Linked DNA regions of Homo sapiens: region 1 is linked to region 2. The links come from fine-mapping of genetic effects on gene expression. A gene starts in region 2. The other region holds a variant in brackets. All regions are shown on one strand. Distances are from middle to middle.

Region 1 (10,729 bases), 390 kb after region 2:
TTTTTTAATTGGCTGCCAATTCTCATTAGCTGCTTTATTTCTTCAATTCTTTATATATTTATATTACAGGAAAAGTAGAAACATAAGGTTCTTTGCCTTCCAAATATTACCGGTGTTCCTATAGTTATAAGGTTATGTAGGCCATTTTGTTAAAAAAAAAAAAACTGACTACTTAGAAAATTAGCCTGCCCTCCAACTTCTCTCCCATCTTCACTCTAGAGTCTATCATCTTTTAACAGGCATTTTCCTTTCAAGTGCTATGAGAAGGGGTGGGGAGCACATATTGACTACGAAGTGCAATCATAAATATTGCAAAGGATGTTAGACTTCATTTAATTGAGCAAAGTGATGGACAAAATGGAAAGTCATAGACAGTGAGGATATGGCAGACTCAAGAGCAGTTACTGTTAAAGAAGAGAAAATCTACGAGGATTATGACAAGGATTGTGTGCTTTCAAGAAAGGAAGATTTGTGTTTCAGGGGATTAAGAGAGGCTCTTGGGAAAATTGGTACAGCCTTCACATATTTCTGCAGAGATGAATCTCTTTATGACTGTGCTGCTAAACTGAATGAAGAATATCATATCAGGTCATCTAATAATTTTTAATAAATTTTATTTTAGAATAATTTTAGATTTATAGTGCAAAGATAATACAGAGTTCCTGCCTATCCCTTATCTAGTTTTCTCCAATGTTAACATCTTAAATTACCATGGTATATTTGTCAAAACTAAGAAACTGACATTGGTATATTACTATTAACTACACCCCCGATTGTATTCAGATTTCACTGATTTTTCTCCACGAATGTCCTTTTTCTCTTCTAGGATCAAATCCAGGCTACAGCATTGCATTTAGCACCTAACAATTTTGTCATAAAAATTTTATATAACAAAAATCCCAATCAACATTTGATTCAGTCTTTATTTATTTTAATAATTAAAGAGTTGCAGTTATAACCAGAATTTTGTTAAATGATAAATTTTTAGTAATATCTTAAATTTCAATTTTCAAATTGGAGTACAAATCAAATCATTTCTTATACAAGCTACTATGAAATTTTGCTTCCCATTTGTAAAAAAAAAAACTTTAATTGACTTCCATCATACTCACTCACCTTGGACAACTACAAAAATTGTTAGAAGTGCTTTATTAAAATATTTAAAACAACATGTTATGAGGATCTATGGATGAAAAGAATAAGTGAGTTTGATTTCTGCATAGTCAGTGGAACTCTGTAATATGCAGTCTTTGAGATATACAAAATAATTTAATAAAGCAAAATAGTTTTGATGCATTATAGAAGCCTCAGATGAATACCCCGATAGTACTGCATTATCAGATGTTCATTACTCTCTTGTTGCACAAATGTATACCTTCAAACAGGTATGCAGCATTATAGAAAAAAAAGAGTCTTTCATTAATTTCAGGAGTATTCAGAAATGGCTCTGGTTTCCTAATTAAAAGATAAATTGAATCTAACAGAAATGAGCTGCAAATGACTGCTAGTAAGCTTGAGAGTTAAATTTATAAAAAGCCTGTGACTTTTAATGTATTAAAAAGTGAAAGAAAGACTTGCTCTTGACTTCACTAAAAACAGCATGTCCTTAAAGATTGTAAGTACTGATAGGATTTTTCCACTAATAAGCAGAAGGCTCTTTTGACATTTTAATAAGATTATATTCTTATGTTCTTTTGGACCAAGATTAATATTATATTGTTCTTTGAGTAAGATATTTTTTCTTTGTAAATGTTTGTGTCTTCTAAATGCAGTCATTTTCAGAATTTAAAAAATTCACTTTATACAGGATCTATAATATTATTTAAAGATAAATTCCCCAGTAGGACTTACATACACCCAAAAAACGAAAACAAACTTATCCTGTAGAAATAATTCCTTGTACTTCAACAATGTCACTTTTAGACCATGCTCCAGTGGATAGGTAGCTTATATATTGGAAGTAAAGCAAATCTAAATTTTTTACTTTGATAAAATATTCTCATTATGTCTTAGAGAATTAACATTTTCCAAGAAGCCAAACTCACTTCTCCGTTATATATTTTTACTGAATGTGGCAGTTAGTACCATCAAATTGTTGTGTGTCATACAATTGTTACGGATTCAATTGAATGCCCCCAAAATTCCTATGTTGAGGCCCTAACCCTCAATGTGACTGCATTTGGAGATAGGGCCTTTAGGAAGTAATTGAGGTTATATGGCATGTAAAACTGGGGCCCTCATCCAGTAGGACTGGTATCCTTATGAGAAGAGGAAGAGAAACACTGAGATCTCACTTACTCTGTGCATGTGCAGAGGAGAGGCCATGTGAGGAGGACATGGTGGGAAGGTGGCCATCTGCAAGCCAGGAAGAGAGGCCTCATCAGAAACCAACATGACGGCAACTAGATCTTGAACTTCTATCCTACAGAACTGTGAGAAAACAAATTTCTGTCGTTTAAACCACCCAGCCTGTGGTATTCTGTTATGGCAGCCTGAGCAGGTGAATACAGCAATATATGTTTATTTCTCTGGAGCCTGAAGGGTTCGGCTAAGTTGTACTACCTGCTGATCTTGGCTGGGTTCACTCATGTACCTAGGGAATGGGCCATGAGTCAGCTGTGAGTTGAGGGTCATCTTGGCTGGACAACTCAGGTTTGTTCCATGGGTCCCTCATCCTCCTGCTGGGACACTGTGCTAGCTGGGCTTATCCTTCTTACTGGGATGGCAGAAGCACAACACGGCAAGTCCACATTTTTAAGCCTCTTCTTGTATCACATCTACTATTACCCCACTGGCCAAAACAAGTGAAGTGATCAAACTTGGAATCAAGGGGTGGGAAAATATACTCTTCCTGCTGATGGGAGGAACAACGAAGTCATATGGCAAAAGACATAGTCAAAGAGAGGGCTGAAAGCTCATCAGTCAATGAGCTGTTTGTTTAAACTATTTGATTTTTTCATAACAGTGGCCTAGCTTACCTACAATGCTGAAAATTCAGTAGAGCCTGGCCTTATAAGAAATCATATAAAAACATTTTCAAATCCTTAAATTTATAAGATATAGCACCTAATTATTGGCATAAAATTTAGGAAAAACATTACTGAGAACTGTAATCCCTCCACCCTGACTTCAGCCTTTTAATTGTTTTATAACTCCTACACTGGTGGGAGTTTAAAAAAAAAGGTTAATATGTGGTGTGAAACTTTGCATAGGAAACACACGATGTTTTAGAAAGGATTCAACAGCAATTCAGACTTGTACAAACTTTTTTTGTGAAATTATTCATGTGATAAACAATTTTGGCACTAGCTAGAATCATCAGTAGATAATTCTTCTGTATATGTGAACTCATTTATGTCTTAGATTTAGCTAATATGGAATTCTACATTACATTTTCTGATTTATCTACAAATCATATTTTCATACTAAGATTTATCCTTTAATTACATTTTCCATTTGATCTCTTCACTTTTACTACTTGCACCAGCAGCTAGATTTCTTTCTGGGGTCATTGTTCACACACACACACAAAACAATATTTATATTTTTCTAGAGCTACAACATATGAGATGCATAGAGAAGAACAGAAACCTGATAAAAAGGAGATGCTAGTTGGCAATCTAGGTACACTTTCTGTCTAAGTAGCTCTGAAAAATAGTTTTCCATTCATATTTTAGAAATAGTACATATTTGGCTCATATCTGCACTCACAGCACTCTGAGAGGCCAAGGTGGGTGAATCACTTGAGGTCAACAGTTCGAGACCAGCCTGGCCAACATGGTGAAACCCTATCTCTACTAAAAATACAAGAATTAGCTGGGTATGGTGGCACATACCTGTAATCCCAACTACTTGGGAGGCTGAGGGAGAATCGCCTGAACCCAGGAGACAGAGGCTGCAGGGAGCCGAGATTGCACCATTGCACTCCAGCATGGGCGACAGTGCAAGACTCTGCTAAATAATAATAATAATTTACAAGATTCAAGCATTTGAAAATTAAATTCAAATATGCCGAGAACTTCCGGAACATTTCCAAGTTGAATAGTTTAAAAGTAAGAGTTATTGTCCATATGATCTTTAGCAACATGCAGTAGCTAAGGATCAACTGAGAGTGTTAAAACACCTTACATTTTTATACTTTTCAGTGTACTCCCACATTCCTTTTCTTTTTTCCTCCAACAGTTCTCCCAACTGCTAGGCGAGGTGTCAGAGGCCTGGCATCAGAAAGTGGTTGACTCATGGGTTGGTAAAAGGATTTATCGACAACAGTATAGGTTTGAAAAGGAGTTTTATTAAATAGAAAGGATGCTGCAGAAGGGTGGAGCAGGCTGTCTCAGCAAGAGAGGACTGAGAGTGCCATGGTGGATTTTTCTTTAGGGGTACCTATGGACCTTAAAGCGGGAGCATAAGGGTAGTCTGGACCACGTAAGCCATGTAGGTCATGATAAATGATTACATTTGTAGATATTTTGGTGCCTTAATGTCAGCAAGGGTTGTACAATGAGTTTCTACATGCATGCATTCTGGAGATGTATAGAAATTCTCATTACTTACAAATTTTTGGGAAAGAAGCCTGGAACCAGATGCCTGCTTTGGATAATGGGGAAGTCTAATTACTTCTAAATTCCTCAGATAAGGTCACAGTCTTTGCATGGTCAGCTTGATGGCCACCAGGTGCTCTCTTCACTAACAAGAAACAAAAGTCTCACTTTTCCTTATAATTAGTAGGTCAGAAATCAACCATTTTATAGATTGATATAGGTTCAGTGCACTTCATTGAACCACACACCCCCACATTTTTGGTAAGATCCAGTCTCTGGACCCTGGATCAACTGGATCAAAGCTCTTTCCCTGAATACTCTTAAAAGTCAGTCCAGAAAACTCGGGTGTTTTTTTTGTTTGTTTGTTTTTGTTTTTTGAGACAGGGTCTCACTTTGTCGCCCAGGGCTTGGAATGCAGTGGCATGAACACGGTTCACTGCAGCTTTGACCTCCCAGGCTCAAGAGATCCTTCTGCTTCAGGCACTTCCCCATACCCCGCCCAAGTAGCTGGGACTACAGGTGTGTGCCACCATGCCCTGCTAATTTTTCTATTTTTTGTAGAGATGGGGTTTTGCCATGTTGCTCAGGCTGGTCTTGACATCCTGAGCTCAGGTGATCTGCCTGCCTTGGCCTCCCAAAGTGCTGGAATTATAAGTGTGAAACACCATGCCAGGACTTCAGGTTAGTCTTGATGTGGGAATGGTAGGAGGCAGTTTTGGAATTACAGCACATGTAGTTTACAGGAAGAGTTTACTTGGAGTAATAAATAAATATATTTATTTTCATTATGCCTATAAACATTGATTTTTTTAAGGGATGTTATTGTGTGGCAAGGCTTCAAGGGGTTTTTAAAGGAGTATGGCAAACCAATTTCTTAAATAAGCATTGCCTCTTCACAATTATCTTTTGAAATGGCTAATTCTAGAAAGGTTTTGAAATCTTGTCTTTAGTCCACTTTTTGATGTAAACCATTTGGGAAAATAAAGCACAGACAGGTGAAGATGAGTGAACAAATACAACTTTGCAGAGTTTTTAGAATAACTTTTGAGCTGACAACCTATCTTAAATTTTCCTACTCCACCTGCATGTTTCAAATGAATCAAATAGTCATGAACACCCAGACTAACAAACAAACAAACAAAAAGCAGCAAAAAGAG[G/A]AAGAAGCCCATTGTATTAGTCTGTTTTCATGTTGCGTGTTCTGTTTTCAGGTATGATAAAGACATACCTGAGAGTGGGTGATTTATAAAGAAAAAGAGGTTTCATCGACTCACAGTTCCACGTGGCTAGGGAGGCCCCACAATCATGGCAGATGGCAAAAGGCACGTCTTACATGGATGGCCATAGGCAAAGAGAGAGCTTGTGCAGGGAAACTCAACCTTATAAAACCATCAGATCTCATGAAACTTATTCACTATCATGAGAACAGCATGGGAAAGACCCATCCCATGATTCAATTACCTTCCACAACACGCGGGAATTGTGGGAGCTACAGTTCAAGATGAGATTTGGGTGGGGACATAGCCAAACCATATCACCCATTCATTCTCCTTATTGAGATTATTTAGACAAACCAAAGTGATGGTAACAGCATCAATTGCTCCTCTCATTCTTGGTTTCAAGATAGACAATTCTCATTATTGGGCTATCTTCCTAAGGATGTCATGGAACTTTAATCACTTCCGTTGAACTTATTTGCTGCTAAACTGTTGTTCTCTGGAACTTTGCTAATTCTTAGAGGAAAAGTTAAATCAGATAGAGTGGATTGACAATTGTCTTCTGAATAAGCAGGTCATGACACTCAGTGGGGCTAAGCCTTCATACAGGGATTTCCATCCCTCAGCTCCTGACTGTGTGAGAAAAGCCTGCTCTCCTGCAAGGATAGAAGATGGAAGGGGGTGAGGTGAGGCTAAGTGTTAAACCAGCTTTCACTTGCCTATTTGCTCTTAATACCCAACCAGAGAAGGGTGGGGGAGAGTGATTCAGCCACATTTGGCTCAACAATTAATAAGTGACATTAATTAATGAGTACATGCTTCCAACAGGGCCAAGTGGACCAATTCAGAGTTATCTTTGAATTCATGTTATATAGGAACAAAGCTTGATATTAGAATTCTTAACATTAGTATGGCCTGTGCTTTTCTTTTTAAAATTGGGGAGGATTATGGACAGTGACCATGGAAAACATTCTGCAAAGTAATATTATGAATACACAGGCTGTAACCTGTGGCACTTTTTTCACCCCAGGTCCTCAAGGTCAAAAAAACAAGACCAGAAGAATTCTTGTACGCAAACTATCCATAAAGCTAAACAACTGCCTGTCAGCCGAGGCTCGCTCTGCCTCTCATCTCCTGACTCCTCATGCTTTTTTCTTTTATTTTGTATTTCAAATTTATAGACAAGTTGCAAGAATAATAGGTTGGCACAAAAGTAATTGCGATTTTGGTAACTTTAATGGCAAAGTAATATAATGAACTCTGATATACTCTTCACCTGGATTTGCCAATTATGAACCAAACATTTTGCCACATTTGGTATCTCTCTCCACATATTATTACTATCATTAATACTACTATTAAAAATTTTCCTGAACTATTTGGGAGTAAATTGTAGACAATACCTCTCTATCACCAATCTAAATACTTCAGTTTGTATCTCCTAGGAGCAAGACTATGCTATAACATAACCACAGTACAATGATGAAATTCAGAAAATACTGATTTGAAACTATTATTCAATATGCAATCTATCTACAATGTTCTTCAATTGCTCCAATAATATTCTTTATAACGTTGTTTTTTTATTGATTTGGGAACCAATCCAGGATCACGCATTGTCTTTAGCTGTCATGTCTCTTACTTTTTAAATCTAGTTCTTCAGCCTTTTCTTTTTCTTTCATGACATTAACATTCTGAAATACATTCCAGTTTTTTGTTGTTGTTGTTTAAAGAATATTCAGCTGGCCATGATGGCACATGCCTGCAATTCCAGCACTTTGAGAGGCTGAGGCAGGAGGATCACTCATAGTACCAGGAGTTCAAAAGTAGCCTGGGCAACATAGTGAGACTCCGGCCCTCCAAAAACAAACAAACAAAAAACAAATAAAAAAAACCAACAAAAAACCTGGGCATGGCGGCACACCCCTGTGGTCCCAGCTCCTCAGGAGGCTGAAACTGAAGGAGCACTTTAGTCAAGGAGTTGGAGGCTGTAATGAGCTATGATCACGCCACTGCCCTCCAGCCTGGATGACACAGTGAGATTCATCTCTTAAAAAAAAACAACAAAATATTATTCCTTAATTTGAGTGTGTTTGATATTTCCTGAGGATCAGATTCAGGTAATACCTTTTTGGCAGGAATAATACATAAGCAATGTTATAGTCTTTCCTGGCATATCACAAAAGGAGGCACATGACATCAATTTGCCCCATTATGAGTGATGTTAACACAGAACTTGGTTCTATGTCTAGTTGGTTCTATGTCTAAGTTAGAACTTGGTTCTCTGTCTATGTTAACTTGGTTCTATGTCTAGCAGATTTATCTACTATAAAGTTAATTCAAAAATAATCTGTGATGATTTAAGGTGGTATAAATATCCTGTTCCCCATCAAACTTTCACACAATAATTTCAGAATCTATTAATGAGTCTCACCTAAGTCAATTATTGTTATGACATCTGTAAGATGGTGATTTTCTTATGCTATCACTCAGAAAATAAAAAGAATTCTAATATTTTATTCTGATATTGTTTGGGAGCCAATTTTGTTACTCATAATTTGAACACTAAGATTTAACAAACTTCCTAAATTCAACATCAGAAGTTTCTAATTTCTTCCTTTATAGTGATAACATAGTACTACTACTACTGTTACTAATAATGTTTATTAACATTTATTAAGTGTTTACTCTGTGCCTTGCACTAGGATTAACATTGAAACACATTGTCTCATTTGGTCCTCATAGTACCTAAGAAATAGATACCATTATTGTTTCTATTTTCCAGAAGAGGAAACTGAGGATCAGAGAAGTAACATTTTATTTTTCAGAGCAGTGCCCCCTGCCCCCAACCTTTTGTACTCCTAACACCATTTCAGTGTTTGGTTCCTGAAGGACTCAAATGACACAAGTTGTGACAGTTTGCATTAAAGCCTCATTATTAGGACAAACTGTCAGGTTCTGAGTTATTCTGAGTGATATTTAAGTCTTCCCAGGTCTTTAGTCTTTGTGGTGAAGTTTGTACCTAACTCCTTAGGACAACAGCACTACTCAAAGTATGGTCTATGGATAAGTGTGAGTCCGTGAGCTATTTGTTATTACCTCTCCACAAGATGAGTGCAGAAATTGAGAAGAATCACTTAGAGAATTTTATAGCGATTGTACATTGCTGAAACAATGGTGATCAGTGAACCGGTTATCTTGAATACGACAAAAATTAGTTTGGATGTTGCTGAACTCATATGGTGAGTCCCATGTTGTATGAACTGTGTACCAGTCATGTGCAGTAGGACTACATTAAAATTTGTGATATTTTCAGCTTAGTTTAGTAATCATATCCTAACAATGTATAAAATCTGGAATTGATTTATTTTATCAAAATACAATTTAAACGTAATGACAACTTTAAAGGATAAATTGTTGGAAATAGCAACTGATGAAGGACTAAATATGAATTCTGAAAATATGACATGATTTGTTTCATTTTAGTTAAAAATGAACATCCTTGGCTTGCTAAAACAGCTTTAAAATGTTCCCTGTTATTCCTATCAATGTAGTGATGGGAGACTGGTGCCGACTACAGTGTTAAAATAGAGGAGACATTTAAAATATATGCTATCCTCTGCAAGCTCTACAAGAAGCGCTGTCTTTAATCCAACTATACAGTAATCAGGAACGAGCCCATTTGCCACTTAAAAACTTTATTTTTTTTTTTTGCCTTTTAGAAATTTTATTGTGAAGTTTATATTTCATTTTATTATCTGATTTTAAGAATTGAAAAGTAAATAGCCCAAATAACAGTGTTGATTTTAATATATAATAAATAGTTTAGTTACCATACAATTGAAAGGTATTATTCAACATAATCATGAAATATATTTTCTCTTTTATGGTGACATGAATGTGAAAACTTAATTATTTTCCCCAACAAATTAGCAATTTAAAGCTCTTTGCCTTCCTTTTTTTTTCCAAGTGTAGTACATTTTTTTTATTTTCCAGTAAATCCTTATTTTCTGTGAACACTTGATATAATTATAGTTTTGTCATTCATTAGAGTACCAGGAATTTAACTAGCATTTGATAAGGATTAAATATAAATACTTTTTACATTGATATATTTATGCTTAAAAAAACAAAATGAAATCATTGTACTTTATAACTTGCTTTTTCTTTAACAACATACTATAGGATTTTTCTTTTATGTTGTTCTATTTTCTTTTAATAATTATGAATGGCTGCATAGATTCTCATCAATGAAACCATAGCTTATTAAGGCATCCACTCTATAGATCATTAAACTGCATTTAACACTCTATTTTTCTTCCTAATCAATAAAACCACAATTAATAACTCTGAGTTTAAATCTTGGGCATATTTTTAATTTTTGTTTTTAATATATATTTCTCTAAGGCCAATCAGAAGATCTACAGATATGACCACATTTTTTCTTTCTTTCTTTATTTTTATTTTTTATTTTTTTTTATTATTATACTTTAAGTTCTAGGGTACATGTGCACAACATTGCAGGTTTGTTACATAGGTATACTTGTGCCATGTTGGTGTGCCGCATTCGTTAACTCATCATTTACATTAGGTATATCTCCTAATGCTTTCCCTCCCCCTCCCCCCGCCCCAAGACAGGCCCCGGTGTGTGATGTTCCCTACCTTGTGTCCAAGTGTTCTCATTGCTCAATTCCCACCTATGAGTGAGAACATGCGGTGTTTGGTTTTCTGTCCTTGTGATAGATTGCTCAGAATGATGGTTTCCAGCTTCATCCATGTCCCTACAAAGGACATGAACCTATCCTCTTATGGCTGCATAGTATTCCATGGTGTATATGTGCCACATTTTCTTAATCCAGTCTATCATTGACAGAAATTTGGGTTGGTTCCAAGTCTTTGCTATTGTGAATAGTGCTGCAGTAAACATACGTGTGCATGTGTCTTTATAGCAGCATGATTTATAATCCTTTGGGT
Region 2 (10,654 bases):
GGAGAATCTCTTGAACCCAGAAGGCAGAGGTTGTGGTGAGCCAAGATCGCACCATTGAACTCCAGCCTGGGCAACAAGAACAAAACTCCATCTCAAAAAAATACAGATACCCAGACACTACCTACAGAACCAAATTACCAAAGAAAGGAACTCATACAAAAGTATGAAGACATGTGAGAAGATAGCATATTCATGGTAAGTAGTAAATGGGGGATGAAAATTTGAAGGCATTAATTCAGGGGAAGATATATATAATTGTAAAATATAGTCTTTGTCCCTGTTGCCTGGCATAACCACTAAAATCCTCAGAATCTCCCAAGTGATGTCTTTTTGTATGCTAATGAGTTAAGTGACATCTAGCAGCCCCTAGATAGCTTCAGGGTGGGAGCTAGTCACTGGAAAGACCAAGGTATAGAGAATTGGGACTTTCAGCCCCAAGCCCCAGCCTCCTCTAGGGAGACGAGAGGGGCTAAAGGTTAGCTGATCACTAATGCCCAATGGTTTAATCAATCATGACTAAATAACGATGACTCCATAAAAACCCAAAGGGGACAGGGTTAGGAAAGCTTCCAAACAGGTGAACATGTAGAGGTTTCTGGAGGGTGGCACACTTGGTGAGAGCATGGAAGCTCAGTATCCCTTCCCATAGCTTACCCTATGCATCTCCTCATCTGTATCCTTTGTCATATCCCTTATAACAAACCAGTTCTAGGAGCTGCTCTAGCAAATTAATAGAGCCCAAGGAAAGGGCCATGGGATCCCTGGTTTACATCCAGTGGTTCAGAAGCACAGGTAAAACAACTTGGGGCTTGCAATTGCCATCAGAAGTGGGGGGAAATCTTGGGAACTGAGCCCTCAACATGTGGGAGCTGATGCTATCTCCAGATAGATGGTGTCAGAATTAAATTGAATTAGAGGACACCCAGTTGATGTCTGCTGTAAAAGTGACCGCTTGCTTGTTGGTAGGGAGAAATAACCACATATTCAATCACAGGAGTCTTCTGTGTTGACTGCTGTATTTTTGTCCACTCAAAATATACATATGAAAAGTGATTTACCTCACATCTATTAGAATGATCAAAATTTAAAACACTGATAACACCAAATGTTGATAAGGATGTCCAGTGACAAGAACTGTCACTCATTGCTGGTGGGAATGCAAATAGTACAGCCACTCTGGAAGACAGTTTGGCGGTTTCTTACAACACTAAACATACTATTACTATACAACTTTACTATCCAATCCAGCAACTGTGCTCCTTAGTATCTACCTAAATGAGTTGAAGACCTACGTTCACACAAAAATCTGCACCCAAATGTTTGTAGTTGTATTATCCATGATCACTAAAACTTGAAAGCAACCAAGATGACCTTTAGTAGGTGAATGGATAAACCGACAATGGAATATTATTCATCACTAAAAAGAAATGAGCTATCAAGCCATGAAAAGACTTGGAGGAACCTTAAATACATATTACTAAGTGAAACCTGAAAAGGTTATGTACTGTATGACTCCAACTCTATGACATTCTGAAAAAGGCAAAACCATGGAGAAAGTAAAAGAATTCAGTAGTTGCCAGGGGTCCTGGGGAGCCTCTGGGGGATGAATAGGCAGAGCACAGAAAATTTTAGGGCAGTGGAACAACTCTGTGTTATACTGCAATGGTAGATAAATGTCATTATACATTTGTCAAAACCCATAAGATGTACAATACCAAGAGTTAACCCCAGTGTAAACCATGAACTTTGGGTGATAATGACATGTCAATGTGGATTCATCAATTCCAACAAACATACCATACTGTGTAGAATGTTGATAGTCGGGGAAGCTGTACATGTAAGAGGGCAGAGAGTATATGGGAACTCTCTGTACTTTCCACTCAGTTTTGCTGTGAACCTAAAACTCCTCCATAAAATAAAGTCTATTTTAAAAACTAATATATTAAAAAACAATGTTTGTAAAAGTTAAACGGGATCATTGACATAATGTGATCATCCCACAAGCCTGGTCAACACCTACCCAATTATCCAACACACCATATCTTAGAGCCTTAAACCACGCAAGCCCTTCCTTACACCACCCACTCCACCTACCAAAATTCTAACTGTCCCAACACACCACAGTCAAACTCAACATGCTACCAAGTTCATGAAGCTTTCTTTCCCTGATCCCACCTCTTAACTTCAGGTTCCTTCTTATACCTCTCTGTACCCTGTGACATCATTCTGTCTAGCTTGAGGACTAAGCTCTGATTATTATTTTTTTTTATCTTGCCCAAATTCCTTTCTAAGGGGTCTGGGGAGTCATGCCCTACAAACCATAAATTCTCATCAGATGAGTTTTATTTAACCCTGTATAACGTGACTTACTTTCCAGTCTGACTCAGGCATAACAAGGAAGAAAATCAAAATGTTTTACCCTAAAATATATTTCTTTGCCATACCTTGGAACTGTCCTGCAAAGTCTCTTGTGGGAAAAACCCACATTCTATAGAGAATTCCCTTTCCCCTTTGTTTTCCTTCCTTCCTTTCCAGATCCAGGAGATAATCAATTAAGAGCCAGGCACTCTTTCAGGTCTCATAAGAAACATTTTACAACCTGCTATCTCTGAAGTCCGCTATCTGAGAGCTCTGCAAAATAAAACTTCGTCTCCACAATCCTTTATCTTAACCTGAACATTTCCTTTGATCTTAGGTCTTGAGATAAACTCAACTAATTGTCAACCAGAAAATGTTTAAATTTACCTATAGCCTGGAAGCCCCTGCTTTGGGTTGTCCTGCCTTTCTGAACCAAACCAATGTATTTCTTAAATGTATTTGATTGATGTCTCATGCCTCCCTAAAATATATAAAAACCAAGCTGTACCCTGACCATCTTGGGAACATGCTCTCAGGACCTCCTGAGGGCTGTGTCACGGGCCATGGTCACTCATATTTGGCTCAGAATAAATCTCTTGAAATATTTTATAGAATTTAACTCTTCATCAACAGACTCATGGTATTTAACCAAAACTTTTAATAAAAATGTGACCTTTTAAAAATCAGTGATTATATCTAAAAATTCAAATTTCTTACTATTCTTAAAAAAACAATATGACACTGTTACCAACTGGGAATAGGGGAAAGTAGCAGGGATTGCATAGAGACCCTCTCCTTGTGGCCTTCCCAACACTGAGGCAGAACTGTTGTCATTTATCACTGTCCCTGTGTTGTTTTTCTTCTTCCCTCCCACTTCGCTTACTCCAAGTGTCAGCCTGGCGCCAGTCCCCATGTGAGGTTGTAGCCTTATTTAGTTACTAATACTTGTTTATTTGTCTCTTAACCCTACAAAACTATAAGTTTCTTGAGAGCAAAGACTTGTTTCTCATTCACCTTTATTTCTCCTATACTCCCTCCCATCCAACCATAGTATATATTTATCAGCTATTTCCTGAATTTAGCGAATTATCAATCAACAAAACAGGAAAAATGTTAAAACTTAATTCATTATGAATGCTACTCAAGATTTAGCAGTTGGTAGGACTGCATCTTTACTATATTTAAATTCACTTCAAAACTCAATGATAACCCTTTTTCATATCTAAGTCACAATTAGGCTCTTTTTGAGGGTAGAGTGAATGAGAGGCTGAGATGCCGAAATGGAAGGAAGAAATCACGTGTTAAAGGCCTACTGTGTGCTAGGCACTGGTTGTAGGCTAAATAATAAAATGAGGGAAGGGCAAATCTAGAAATAAAAGAAACGTAAGGGAAGAAACCTATGTTGGAGCAGGTAGGAACAGCATTCCAGGACAGCCAGGATTCTGCAACAAGCAGTTAAAAGTATAGAGCTGCCAGGTCAGGGGATGGTTACTTTGTGTAAACTTTGTAGAACATTTACAACATTCTTAGAAGTGGTGAACTGATGCCACCTGAAGAGTCTATACTGAAGCCTATGACCTTCCCTGTTCCCCCAACTGAGGACTCTTCTCCTTTTAATCAAAGCAGTCAATTTAATTACATCTACATTGAGAAAGTATCACTAGATATCTTTTGCTATCTTGTTTCCTAGGAGGAAAATAGATCATAAAGAAATGTGTCATATAATCCCTGCTGTCAAAACAAAATAAGAAAAATCTGAAATCAGAAATAGTAGATTTCATTTAAGAGTGTAACAGCTTTAATTAAAACCCATAAAGCAAATACTTTGGCCTAACAGTGCTTGACATGTCGTACTGTAAAACCCTTTTAAATTAAATTTCTTAAGATAATGGTAGATTCACATGTAGTTGAAAGATATAATATAGAAATATCTCTTGTACCATTTATCCAGTTTCCCCTAATGGTAACGTCTTACAAAACTATAGTACAATATATCAACCTAAGATATTGATACTGACACAGTCCAGACAAAGCACATTTCTATCACCACAAATATCCCTCATGTTGCTATTTTATAGCCATATCCATTCCCTTCTGCCCTGCTGCCTAATTTTTTAACCTTTGGCAACCACTAATCTGTTCTCCATTTTTGAAATTTTGCAATTTCGCAATTTCAATGATGTTATATAAATGGAATCACACAATATGTAATCTTTTGGATTGGCTGTTTTAACTCAAGTTCTCTGAAGATTAATCCTGCTGTAAAACCTTCTAACTGATGCCAATCATGGAGCAGAATCAAAATCTAGTAAACAAAGACCTGGGGTTCTCTGATGACTCACATGAAAGCAAAGGGAACAAGAAAGATTAAATTTCATTGTCCTTTGTTCTCTGTGACAGGTTTCTCTGTTGTGTTTTCCTACCACCATAAAAATACAAAACCATTCTCATTGTCAAACTGTTTTACTACCAAGACTATTTTACACAGTCAGATTATAAACTTTTATGTTTGTGTGGCCATCAAGGTTTGTGAAGCTTGTCTCAGAAAAACATGCCCAATTAAGAAAGTTCAAAATCATCCTTATTTATATTAATCGTTTCCGATTCCAATTTACAATGAACTTACTGAGTTTTCCACTTAGAACTCAGTCTTCGCTCTCTCACAATACAAAAATAAATCTCACTGGAATTGCTGTTGTTGGAAACAGGAGCCCTTATGTTGTGTTTTAACCAGTGCAGAGAAGAATCGAGTGCATCTGTCAGCTCCAAAATCGAAAAAACTACAAGGCGATTTGTTTGTTCTCCAAATTTTTCCTTTAACACACTTAGGATGTCATTCATAACCACTTCTGATACACGCCAACCTTGGCAAAAGAATCTCATCCCTGAATGTTATTTCAAAAGGAAAAGCAAAATCTTGACCAGGTAATTGCCCAGCTTTCACTCCTTACCATTTTTAAAAACAGATACCAAATAGGCTCATCTCACATTAGCAAGTCGACAACACAAAGAACAAGCTACAAATAATGAAACGGTCTGCAATCTGTTGCCATGTTTCTAAACCACGGCCCTAAAATTCATCCACCTTTTAACCAGACCCACAGTACTCTACTGGTGACAATTTCTTAAGCAAGTCAAAACTCGTTAGTCACCAGACATATGATTACTAGATTAAGCACATACTCTTAAGTTTCAAACCTACGAATTTAAAAGAAAAATAAAGCCTCCAGACAGTTCCTTCCAGTGTTTGTATAGGCCAACAAACGATGAAAAAAATAGAAATGATGTTAAATATTTAAATAATCACTTGTCCAGTAAAAAAATGAACAGCAATTGAATATCTACTTCCTCAATAACCTTACCACATGCACATGTGCATGTACACAACACACAACACACAACACACACACACACACACACACACACACACACCCCTTTAGGACCAGCTTCCATAATACAATCTTAAACTACCACTCCTTTCCCTGCTCCCAGAAGGGACCTAAGGCAAGTACCAATGGTTCCATTTAGACTCTGGAAGTTAACCAGGACAACAGTACACACTCCTTACTCCTTGGTGTTAGCTCACTGACACAGGTGTCTCCCCGGTCCCAAGAGAAAACTCCTAAAGGGTAGGGACCCATGTTCCATTCATCTTTGTATGCCCCACAGTGCTAGAATCTGCAAAATGTTCTACACAGTGAGCACCAAACAAGAAATGTTGAATGTTAAAGAACAAAATAGAAAACTAGATGTACTTAAGAGATCTATAGAATTCCAGAATGCAATATGCAAATGTTCTTATTCCTAAACCTCTCCCAAAGAAGGTAGAGAATATTTAGCTTTGTGGCATTATGTGTCCAAAAGCTTATGTATGGACTTTAAATAATGTATGTATGGCTCAATTTTCTCATCTGAACAATGAGGATAATAAAAATAGCTAACTGATACGGTCTTGAGACAGTTAAAGATGTTGGTATAGGTAATGTCTCCTTAGACCAATGACACGAACGCTATACACATTACTTATGAAGGGTTAGCTACTCATTTTACTGGAAATAATAAATAATATAAATAAATAAGGTCCACACAGCTCTGCAAAGGAGACCAAAGGTTAAAAGAAATTAGCCTAGAAGACGTAATATCACAGTTTGGCAAACTTTTCTGTAAAGGACCAGACACTACTGTAAATATTTTAGGCTTTACAAGACAAGCCGCAATACCCTCAACCCTTGGAGCAACTATTCCCCCTGAAAAATTAGTAGATTTTTTGTTTACATTTTACATTTCAGAATTTAAGAATCATTCTTAGTTCATGGGGCCATACAAACATAGGCTGGATTTGGCCCCCAGGCACTAGTTTGCCAATCCCTGGATAAGATAATAATGGTAATACAGTCAGTGTTTTAAAAGCAACATAAAGAAATGTTTGTGAATTGGCTTAAAGGTAACTGAAAAACGTGCGGCCCCAAACTTCTAAAATCCGGACCGGCGGACCAGTGCGGTGGGGAAACCGGCCAGGACTAGGGCCGGTCTTCAGGAGCCGGCGCGGAACTCCACGGCTCTCGGGGTCCGCTAAGCCCCCGCCCACACTTACTCCCAGCAGCGGCCCGCGGCCGATCACCGTCTCCCCGGGCGCCAGGGCCACCCGGGGACCGCCGTCCCGCGGCTGCAGCTCGAAGCCCCCGGACATGGCGGGCAAGGATTAGGCCCCTTCGCCAGGAGACTGGCCCCTCCGCTGTTTCCGCCCTCCACAGACACGCGCGGGGCAAGCCCACGCCCTGGGAAAAAACACCGAGGGAGGGCCTCAAAGGCTCCCCGCGGCTGCGCCGGTCCTCTCAGAGCCCGGCCCCAGCGCAGCTTCACGAGTCCCGCCCCTCCACGCCTACTAATGACGCAACCGGGGATTCCCCAGTCTCGCCGCCTCAAAACTACTGTTTAAAAACCCCGGCTTATTCCCCAACACCCTTTTCACCTCCCTCCCATCTTGGAGGACGCCGGGCCTTGTAGTCCTGGTGGCTTTCTTCACTTCCTTTCCCGAGCGGAGACGCCCTGGAAAAAACTACCAATCCCCAAAGGCACTGCGCGCCCCTCTCGGCGCCTGCGCGAGTTCTGAGCAGGGCGGGACTCAGGTGGGCGGGATGCGAAGAGCTATGGGGAAGGATTCGAATTCCGGTGGATTTAAATCGCGGGAGGAGAAGCTACCGCGGCCTAGTAGGTAGAAGGGTCTTCCGTTCCCGTTGGCTTAGGTGTCTACGCTCCCGGGGACGCGGCCTGGACGCAAGCTCAGCCTTCCCTCCGCGGCCTGGAGCCGCAGTGACAGTCAACGCTGACGGTTGTTGTCACTTGTCAGTGCCCTGTGTTCTTGGGTTCCAGCAGCTGCAACCCGCGCGGGACACAAGGAGGGTGGCTCAGACGGGACGTGGGGTGATTAGCCCTGACCCGCGGGATTTGGACGGAGTGGGGCTCCCCGCCCCTCCGACTGCGCTGCCGCCGATCTATCCCTCCGAATGATAGTTGAAAGGGGGACGAGCTTTTACTTCACTTGAGAGAGAATTCAGGAAAGCTCAGTTCATAAAGGAGAAAGGGCAGAAGAGGGGTCGTTTCCAGGCATCCAGGCGAACCTGGACGTAGAAGAAAGATTCCTAGTGGGATTTTAGAAACTCGCAAAGGTATCCCCTGCTGTGAAATTCAAAAGCCTTCATTCCCGTTACAGGAATTCCACAAGGGGACGCATTTTATTCTCCCAGTAAGATCCTGGGAGAAGTGGATAAACACACTGTAACGTTTAAATGCACTGTAACGTTTTCCTAATGTGAGATTCTTTTCAAGAACGTTGTGGTTTGGCTTTGGTTTGTATTGGTGGTGGGAGGGGCCAAGGTGCATGGCAAAAACTTGCTCTTGACTCACCCGTTTTTACGTTTGCTTTCTTACTTCTCCTAACCCTCAAGAAGAAGACCTCTGTTGAACACAGACTGCAGTTCCAGCCACCACAGCTAATCTGGATCATGAATGGGAGCCACCGTGGTCTTGGCAAGTCCGAAAACATAGCTGAGTAGCTCGTCTAGAAAAGAGATTTGTGTTCAGCTGAGTTAAAAGAAGTATTTACCTCAAACCTCTCCTCTTGCACAACCAACCCCCGTTATAAAAGGAAGTGCAAAATGGAATAAACTGATTTTAAGTGAATACAAGCTGTCTTTATATACAAAAGTAACTCAAGGATGGTGATGTACCCAGTCATGCTTTCAACTGATTTGGGAAGCCTACACCATTCACCTTAGGTAAATTAGCTGAAACTGAGCTTTAAATCTGGGCTTCAAAGAGTCACATACTGTACCTAGCTGAGTTCTAAACATTGTTTACAGTTGTCACTCACTGTTGCTTGATGTCTTCAGTGACTATTATCCTTAGCTTGTAATTATGCATGTAGGATAGCTTCAAGGGGCCATTTCTAAAACACTACTCTTATGACTGAGTTGAATATTTGAGACTTTGTTTCATAATCCAGATCTCATCTTCTTGTCCATTTCAGATAGTAGTTGTGTCAAATGTAAGCACCTACCTACCTATAAGATACAAGTAGATAAAATTCTTATATAAACAACTAGAAGTCCAGCAAGTTTATGATTAAGTCACAAATTGCAAATTAATGATGAGGCATCAGTTCCCATGTACAACAAGTATTCAGGAGTTTAATAGGATTGACTCATATACATTTTCAAAGGTACAAAAGTACCGGGTATGGTGGCTCATACCTGTCATCCCAGCACTCTGGGAGGCTGAGGCAGAAGGATTGCTTGAGGACAAGAGTTCAAGACCAGCCTGGACAACATAGCAAGAACCATTTCTCCGTAAAACAGTTTTTGGTTTTCTGTTTTTTTTTTTTTCTTTTTTTTTTTTTTAAAGAGGGGCGGGGTACGCTGAGTCAAGAGAATCGCTTGAGGCTGGAGTTTGAGGCTGCAGTGAGCTATTATGACACATCTGCACTCCAGCCTGGGTGAGAGTGAAACTAACATGTTGGGTGCCTCCCATGTGCAATTCAGATGTAGCAAGACTAGATATTTTACCCACTATCACTGTTAATCCTTGCAAGAACTTTCAGGAGAGCGGCAGCATTGGCCCATTTTACAGATTGAGAAGCTAAAGTCAAGAAAGAGTTCTTAAATTATACCCAAAAAGCATCTGACTTAAAGTAGGATTTATACTCCTATTTGGAGACTGAGCATGTTTAAATTTTGCCTTTTAGGTTACATATGAGGATAACTTAAAACATTAAGCTATGCATAAAAACTCCAAGAGAAACAATAATTTAAGAGTTTCTCACACAGAAGCGAACTCTGTGGATGCTGAGAAGGAAAAAAATGAGAGTCAAAACAACTTTTTTGAACTGCTGCCTGCAGAAATCACTTTTAAAATTTTCAGTCAGCTGGACATTCGGAGTCTGTGCAGGGCTTCATTGACATGCAGGAGCTGGAATGACACAATAAGAAACAGTGACTCTTTATGGAAACCTCACTGCATGACTGTAAGAGCTGTGTGCCGAAGAGAAATAGATGATGATCTAGAAAGTGGTTATTCCTGGAGGGTAAGTTTAATCTTTGCGATCTGCAGTGTTGTTGACAGCGTTATGATAGCAGGTTTGCGCCAATTCTAACTTCTGCTTGGAGGAGTCAGAATTACATATGCAGAATAACACAGACAGTGTGTTGACTCTTGGAAATGAGTTAAAGTTATTAGTCTTTTCCTGCTAACCACACTGTTTCCACACTATCTTTCATTTATCCTTTTGCATTTTTAAAATTCTAAATTCGGGAATTTTCCTGCGTTAACCAGAAGGGAATTAGCTCCTTCTTTCCACTTCACCTTATGCCACTCAGTATAAATACACATATACATACACACACGTACACAGACACATACATTTATTAATGTACGTATATATAAATGTAAATACTCTTTTTTTCAGCCCTGTCAATCTGCTTCTCTTGCTTTAAACACATTCACTAACCAACCACCTACTACAGTCTTTTTTAACGGTGATTTACCTCTTTCAGGTGATACTGCTGAGGAATTACCAGAAGAGTAAAGTGAAACACGAATGGCTAAGTGGCAGATACAGCAACATTTGTTCTCCCATTAGCCTACCAGAAAAAATCATGTACCCAATGGATGCAGATACATGGGGGGAAATTCTAGAAGCAGAACTGGAAAGATAAGGGGAAAAAAAATCACAAATCTCAGGTCTTTGAAAGTTTAAAACTTAAATGACTCTTAGGTTGCAAAAGCGATATCTTTATTC

Which allele goes with the higher level. Positions count from the first base shown, and alleles are read on the strand shown. Sizes are in standard deviations (SD) of each study's normalised expression.
For the expression in transverse colon of the gene that starts at base 7,486 in region 2, allele G in region 1 goes with a lower level than allele A (large effect, 1.1 SD a copy in GTEx).

The links.
Region 1: its variant is fine-mapped to the expression of FBXO48 in transverse colon (GTEx, PIP above 0.99).

Annotation. Positions count from the first base shown.
Region 1 is chr2:68,069,393-68,080,121 of GRCh38, reverse strand. No RefSeq gene overlaps it. Among named protein-coding and RNA genes, the nearest start is that of C1D, 12 kb to the right of the region's middle. The variant G/A (reference allele first, on the strand shown) is at 5,699.
Region 2 is chr2:68,464,126-68,474,779 of GRCh38, reverse strand. It overlaps FBXO48 (F-box protein 48), which reads left to right and starts at 7,486. Exons shown (of 4, transcript NM_001024680.3): 1 at 7,486-7,569; 2 at 8,310-8,636; 3 at 9,602-9,940; 4 at 10,410-10,654. The coding sequence starts at 9,635. The coding sequence ends at 10,571. APLF (aprataxin and PNKP like factor) reads right to left here and starts at 7,195. Exons shown (of 10, transcript NM_173545.3): 1 at 6,953-7,195. The coding sequence starts at 7,048. RefSeq lists a silencer at 6,911-7,120 and enhancers at 6,462-7,356, 7,357-8,252, 8,346-8,405.